Linked DNA regions of Homo sapiens. The protein of the gene in region 1 purifies or fractionates together with the protein of each later gene. This does not show direct contact. Each region holds a gene or a part of one and is shown on either strand. Other genes may lie near its edges.

Region 1 (3,746 bases):
CCTGACTGGGTGCAGTGGCTCGTGCCTGTAATCCCAGTACTTTGGGAAGCCAAGGCGGGTGGATCATTTGAGGCCAGGAGTTTGAAACCAGCCTGGCCAATATGGTGAAATGCTGTCTCTACTAAACACATACAAATTAGCCAGGTGTGGTGATGTGTGCCTGTAATCCCAGCTACTCAGGAGACTGAGGCACCAGAATCGCTTGAACCTGGGAGGCGGGGGTTGCAGTGAGCTGAGATGGCGCCACTGCACTCCAGCCTGGGCGACAGAGTGAGACCTTGTCTCAAAAAAAAGAAAGAAAGAAAAGAAAGAACCCAACGGCCCACTTCATTTCTGCCTTACCTTGGAATGGTGGCTGGATGGCGGCGTTCTTCACTCCAGATTTCAGGGAGTGGGAGTCTTCCTGTAGCCTCCGACCCAGAACCGATCTCCTCGCAGTGTGGCCACAGAATTCCTGCAGTGAGGGTAAAGGTGGCATCCAGGGTTGTCAGGGGGTTCTCTCCTTGTGGTGAAGCTTCCTCAGCTCAGACCCCATAGAGGAGCAGGGATGGGAGGTAGGATTCAGCCCCCTTCCTCTCCCAAAACTCCTAATAAGGACCACCTACTGCCTACGTTCTAGGAAATGCCTAAGATGGAAGAGGCTACACTTTCCCAACATAATCCAGTCTAGTTTTTTCTTTTTTTATAAGCTTTTAAGTTCTGGGGTACATGTGCAGAACGTGCAGGTTTGTTACATAGGTATACATGTGCCAATTCAGTCTAGTTTTAAAACTAACTCTTGCAGGACTGACATTCACCTTTTCTTCTGAAAGCGTTTTTCCCCCCAAACCCTGCTGGTATTTAAATTTGTTATGAATAAAAGAGAGAACATCTTGCCCTTTAGACCAAATGCACTGCTACCTACCAAAGCCCCTGAGCTGGGTGAGCAGGTGGGCGGCAAGGGCGCGAGGGAGGCGTGTCCACCGTGACACTGGGATTCCTGGCCGGCAACTGCGGTCCAAGGCTGAAAGATGACACAGCCATTTTAGGAGCCCTTTGGGACTGACACCGGTGGTGGAGGTAGAGGCGCGGTTAGCATCACTGGACTCTACTTCCCAGTAACAAACGTGATTTAAAATTTAACCAAATAACTTGGGCCATCCCAATTGCCCAGCTCGGCAGCACCTGCTGTGAGTGTTGGTGGGATGGGAGCGCAGGTCTCAGCTGTGCCCGGGCTCCTTCTGCCACCCCCGGGACTGTCCTGCCTCCCTTCGTCCACCGCACCCACTCCACGATCCCGGCCAACTACGATGGACCCCGAGGGTGCGTCAGCCCCACGCGCCGGGGAGGCCCCAGGCATGGCATCCACTGGGGCGGTGGGGGGGAACAGCGGGCAGGGGTCTTCCCGCGCATGCCCCATCTCGGCCCAGCTCGGAACCCCCTTTATTCAGCAGGATCGGCGAGAACTCCTTGAACCTTCCCTCCCCAGCGACCTCCGCAGTCTGACTTGGGTTTGCTTTCGCGCGTTCCCAGGAAATAGAAGTCGACGGAAAGCAGTGGTCGGCGTTCGGGTGGGCTCGTGGCCCGCGCAGCCGTGGATCTGAAACTTTCCCGGCGCCCTTCCCCGCTTACTAGAGTCCCTCGGAGACCTCCCCCGAGCCCCGTCCCCCACCCCTTCCCAACCTCTCCTGCAGGAAGGCCGCGGGTTAGGGGGATGTTTCTGATGCGTCATCAGGAGCCTGGGCAGCCTGGTGGGAACCAGAATCAGGCGTGCTCCGAGCCCGCCCATCAGCGCCCTTGCTATGATTATGATTATTATTATTGTTAGTTACTAGCAGCCGAGAAGGTGCCCCCGTCGTGCCCGTGCTCCGGAGCGCTAGTCTCCGCCACGAACGCCGCTCTCCCAATGCCCTTCTCCGCGCTCCTAGCGCGGTTACTGGGCGCTGCCCCCAGAAGCGACACTCACCGGTCCCTGCGCAGTGCTGGAGTGCGGCCTCCGCTCTCGCTTCGCCTCTTTCACCCCGCGCCCAGCCCCGCCCCGCGCCGCGAAGAAATGAAACTCACAGACCCTGTGCTGAGGGCGGCTCCGGGCGCAGAAACGAAACCTAGCTCCTGGCCCCGCACCTGCAGCACTTGCCTCGCGGGAACTCGCGGGAGACGCAGGTTCTCGGGCCCGAACCCAGGCCTGCTGAATCAGATGCTCGTTTCATCAGGCCCGTCTGAGGATCAAGGTGCTCCGGAGGCTCCCTAATGGCCCGGAGTCATCCAAGCCTGCACGTATCCTTGAACCTAGGCATGTCCTTCCCCCCGTCGGTTTTGAAAACAGATGCATTGGTAATTGGGGGTCTTCAGTTCCCTCCCAGGGCTCACTGGGATGATCCCAGCACCAGCAGGGACTCCCAGGCATTGTGTGCCAATGGCTGCAGAGCCCCTCTTGTCCCGAACTCCGTCCAGCACTCCCACCCCTAACCAGGCACACCCATACCATCTTCCTCCTTTCCCGTTTCCCCTTGCCCACTTCTAGGCCTCCCTGGAGTCTGGCTCATCTGGCCTCTCCAGGGTGGAAACGGGTGTGTGGAAGGAAAATAAAATAAAATAAATAAAATAGTAATAATAAAGCTTAAAATAATAAACATAACATAGGTAATAGTTGTCAGGCCAGGCCATCGCATCCCAGGCCAGGCCATCGCATCCCCTGTGACTTGCAGGTATACATCCAGATGGCCTAAAGTAACTGAAGATCCACAAAAGAAGTAAAAACAGCCTTAACTGATGACATTCCACCATTGTGATTTGTTCCTGCCCCACCCTAACTGATCAATGTACTTTGTAATCTTCCCCACCCTTAAGAAGGTTATTTGTAATTCTCCCCACCCTTGAGAATGTACTTTGTGAGATTCACCCCTGCCCACCAGAGAACAACCCCCTTTGACTGTAATTTTCCATTACCTTCCCAAATCCTATAAAACGGCCCCACCCCTATCTCCCTTCGCTGACTCTCTTTTCGGACTCAGCCCGCCTGCACCCAGGTGAAATACACAGCCATGTTGCTCACACAAAGCCTGTTTGGTGGTCTCTTCACATGGACGCACATGAAAACAGTTAACATTTAGTATAAGCTATTTAGAAGTAACACATAGGCTAAAATTTTAAGCAGCCCCTCCCAGCATTGTAACAAGTTGCAGATGCAAGCTTATCTCAAAAGCTTATCACCTGCCTCGGGACCCCAGCCTCCAACCCTAGTCCAGCTTGGAGGATGACTAGTCAATATAACTGAATTGCCAGTTTCCTCAGAATTGTCACGGGTTAAGTAATTTACTGTCTTTGTCTGAAACCTGTATCCTACCTTGTTTTTCCCATCTCAAACGACATATAAGCTAGCTGCTTTCTTTGTTGGGGTTGGCAGCCATTTTGGGCATGAGCCTGCTGTTGGCCCGAATTAAAAGTTCTGTTTTGGTCTCCAAAGGTCTCTTTGTCTTCCTTGGCTAGAGTTTTACTGCAAAGGTGAAAGGGGTTGGGGAGGGCTGAGTCAAGCAGACCCATGGGTGGTCCTCCCTTTGGGAGCTCCCATTCTCGGCTAACTGGCTGTGAGTGGGAGATGGCATTTCCCTTTGGGAGCGGTTGGCACCCCACCTCCATTCTCCTTAGCTCAGCTCACAGTCCCTTACAAGCCCCCGCTAAAGACTTCCATGATTAGGAAGGGTCACCCCCAACCAACCTCAAGGCCCAGAACCTGCCCCAGCTTTAGGTCCTGGGGTCAGGGGAAA
Region 2 (3,746 bases), on another chromosome or scaffold:
GTCAGTGCCCAGGGCCGTGAAGGTGACAGATTCCCAAGGAGTCCCCGTCTGCAAGTCTATCATCTGCATCTCTCGACTTCGTTCTACCCGAATCCATTTCCCCCGATACCTGAATAAGAACGATCAAAACTGAGTGAGTGAATGGGTCAAACCCAGCTCCCATCATTCTTTTCTACTCTCACAGCCCTCCCTAGCTCCCCACCTTACCAGATAAAATGGTTTCCAGGGCTGGGGACAAATTCAAACTTAGTGGAAATGCGGCCACTCTCATGCTGAAGGTACGAAGTCTCGACACTGAGGTGCTGAGTACGGGTACTGTGGCGGGTGAGCCAGCTAAGCAACCAGGCATAGCTCCTGTCTCGAGCAGGGACTTCCAGTGTGATCATGTAATGGCGCCGGAATGCCACCAGGCCCAGTTGGACACCCTTCCGGGCCAGGGCCAGGGCTGTGCCCACACCCACCAGCCCAAATCCAGCCCCAAAGTAGGGATTGTCCTTCAGAGCCAGAATAAAGTCTGAAAGTGGCATCTTGAAAGGGAAACACCAAACCTTACAGGCCCTGGGGTGTTACGAAAACCTAGGGGTGGGGAACAGTGGAGATGGGACAAAGCACAGATTAGAAATTGGACCTCCCCAGCCCTGGCCACAGGTCAGCATTACTGTGTGGGTCAATACCCTCCTTTTGTGGGGTAAGGGTGGTATTGGAATGCAAGGGTGGAGGCTCCAGGTCCCTCATCCCATTTTGTCCTTCATTAGTCTACTCATACCTGTTTCCTACCAGAGGACCATGTCTGGAGATGCCTTAAACCAAAAAGAGCTATATAAACAGGCTTCACATCAGGGTAATGGATGGACAGGATTTTTGTGGTCCCTGGGACCAGCTATGATAAAAAGGGGTCCATTGGCTGCAGTCAGCAAGGGAGAAGCGTCCGTTGACTTGTCAGTAACCCTATGTCTTGTTATGAGTAATGTCCTTCAAATATCCTCCCCCTTACGTCCCCAATATTTAACGTCTTGTTTAGACCTTTATTACCTCCCACCTAAACTGTCTTTAAAATCGTAGTTCTTGAAATGGCATTTTAATAGGTCTTCACCTCCTGCTTCACGGAACATCTACACAAGGGTCCAGATCTTTCATCATAGGGATCAGCTCCAATACCATATCTCTCTCTGCTCCAGCACCTTCAATGGCTGGCTCCCAGCAGACCCCTGAATTGGGTATAAACTCAGCCTGGTACTCAAGGCTCTCTACAATACGGCGCCCACCTACCTTTCATGGATTAGCTCCTAACACTACCTGTTTAGCAAATATGCAAATACGCAACAAATATGTTCAACAAGTAAGCAACCTCCCAACTCCTTGCTCATGCAGTGCTCTTGGCTCGGAATGCCCGTTCTTTTCTCCCTCATTCTCCCCAAATGAAAATCTGCCCATCTGCTACTTTCTCCACGGATCGTCACATCGTAGACAATAAGATCCTGAGGGACAAGAGCAAAGTTGTTTCTAGTACACCTCTCCTCCAACCCCGAACCCCGGCCACTTTGCCCTGCGCCTGGCATGCAGGGAGGTGAGCTGACAGCAGTGACCTCGGCTGAGCCTCAGAACTGGGATCCAGAATTCCAAAACACCTATGCATGGAAGGCCACAGACAAAGCTCTCCCGTCCCCGGCCCCTCCGCGACACCCAGGAACCCCCTCCTGAACCTCGCCCACACCCCAGCTCGCGCCTCCAGCCACATGGTTTGGGGTAACCCGTCACTCAGCCCTCTCACCGCCGTGACTCTCTGGCCCTCCGTCTCGATGGTTTCACCGCGCCTGCACCTTGGGGAAGCTGCGTTCGGCCCCGCCCCGGGTCCTTTCATCTACTTCCCGCCACACCCACAGAGAAGCCCACGCCACTCTACCCCAGAGCTCTCGATGGTGCTTCTCCGGCTTCAGGGCTGGAGTGGGGGTGGAGGGCGGGAAAAACCACAGAGACAAAACATAGAGTACCCCGGCAGCCGGCAAGAGGAAGAGAGAGTGGCTTCCACATCCCCAATATCCTAGAGGCGGCTGAGCCGGAGGCGGTCGCACAAAGCGGGCCCCGGGGGCCGTTCCAGCCGCGGCCGACCATAGAGATGCGGCTCCCGCCGGCTCTGGGTCTGGAGGTGAGTGAGCGGCTGCGGGGCGGAACTGGGAAGGGAATGCGGGTGGAGCGAGCTGGAGGCAAAGTTTTTCGAGCCCCGGGATCAGGGTGGGCCTGGGCGCTGGGAACTCTCGGAAGGAGGTACTGAAGGGAGCACCCAGACGAGCTGGGCCCCGGCGCTGCAGTCGCGTCACGGTTCTGGACCCCGCCCGGGTACCTGCTGCTCTCAGGACAAAATCATGACGATGCTCCATCCCAAGCCTTCCAGGTTACAAACCGCCTTTCCAGTTCGCTGGCTCTTATGATCCAGCTCCTGCCCGACGATGTGGACACTGTCATCACCTCCATTTTACAGATAGGAAAGCTGAGGCCCAGAGAAGCGAAGCGACTGTGTCTGTCCAAGACCACGCGGTGAGTCAGAGCCAGAGGCAGGTGGGAACCTGGGTCGCTAGGCCGGGGCCCGTTGTTTCTCCAGGCCTTCTCTCTGCCTTAGTCTGTCCTTTCTCTTCCTCAGCCCTCCTGCCCGGAAGATAAGCGTATTTCTTCTCTGGTGCCCACCTGTCTCCTACCTCACCCTGCCCTCCCGCAGGTGAAGGTTCTTAATCTTGACGGCTCAGCGTCCTCCTTGGCTCCCCCCGGAGGCCATGTATGGTCAAGCTTGAAGATTCCCCAGAACAGCGATAATATTCAGTAAGTGGAGGCTGCAGTTTCCAGAGAATCCCTCTGACCACGGGAGTGCACTTTCCAGCCACCTTGTGAATCCCTGTGATCTGTTGTTTTGAGTCCATGGGATTCTGGAAATAGGGACTATCAGATTGCAGGATCTTGGTTTTTGTTTGTTTTTTTTTTGAGACGGAGTTTCGCTCTTGTTGCCCAAGCTGGGGTGCAATGGTGCGATCTCGGCTCACTGCAACCTCCGCCTCCCGGGTTCCAGCGATTCTCCTGCCTCAGCCTCCCGAGTAGCTGGGATTACAGGCGTGTGCCACCACACCCTGCTGATTTTTTGTATTTTTAGTAGAAACAGGGTTTCACAATGTTCGCCAGGCTGGTCTCGAACTTCTGACCTCAGGTGATCGGCCCGCCTTGGCCTCCCAAAGTGCTGGGATTACAGGCCTGAGCCACCGCGCCCGGCCTGGTTTCTTCTTCTTTTTTTCTTTTTGCATCTTGTCTGTGACTCAATTTCATGAAGTGATTCCCATCATTCTTATTAATTACTAATTATTCAGCTTAAACTCATTTTAGCCATGTATAACAGGGTATGCAATTCAATTGTCATTCATTCCTCAGTTATGTTCCCATATTTAGTTTGAGGCCATAGTCAGTTAATGAGTTTGAAATTTCTCCAAATGTGTTACGTTATAGGTGAGGAACCACTGGTTTTGTACAAGATACCTAGCTTTACTCCAATGCAGCTCCATATCTGTGGTTCTTCACTGGAATCTTCGATTGTGGGTGATTTGTGTTCGTTGAAGTGATAATGTCAGTATCACAAAGTAATATCATTGAAGTGATAATGTCAACAAATTACTAAAAAAGCTATACATCTAGGGAGAGAGACTGACAGGTAAACAACAGTGCAGTGTGACCTCGTTTCTGATAGGGCTGTGTACAGAGTGCCCTTA

The links. The genes of interacting proteins can lie anywhere in the genome.
Region 2: the proteins of MX1 (region 1) and BCS1L purify together in Homo sapiens (affinity purification with mass spectrometry; 2 studies listed by BioGRID and IntAct, with this or other methods). This does not show direct contact.

Annotation. Positions count from the first base shown.
Region 1 is NC_000021.9:41,424,463-41,428,208, reverse strand, and holds the start of MX1 (interferon-induced GTP-binding protein Mx1), read right to left. Parts: upstream 1,971-3,746; 5' UTR 1,946-1,970; exon of another isoform or gene 1,663-1,945; intron 1,004-1,662; 5' UTR 905-1,003; intron 455-904; 5' UTR 343-454; intron 1-342.
Region 2 is NC_000002.12:218,657,769-218,661,514, reverse strand, and holds the start of BCS1L (mitochondrial chaperone BCS1), read right to left. Parts: upstream 1,833-3,746; 5' UTR 1,772-1,832; exon of another isoform or gene 577-1,771; 5' UTR 528-576; coding exon 208-527; intron 110-207; coding exon 1-109. UniProt on the Homo sapiens protein: Chaperone necessary for the incorporation of Rieske iron-sulfur protein UQCRFS1 into the mitochondrial respiratory chain complex III.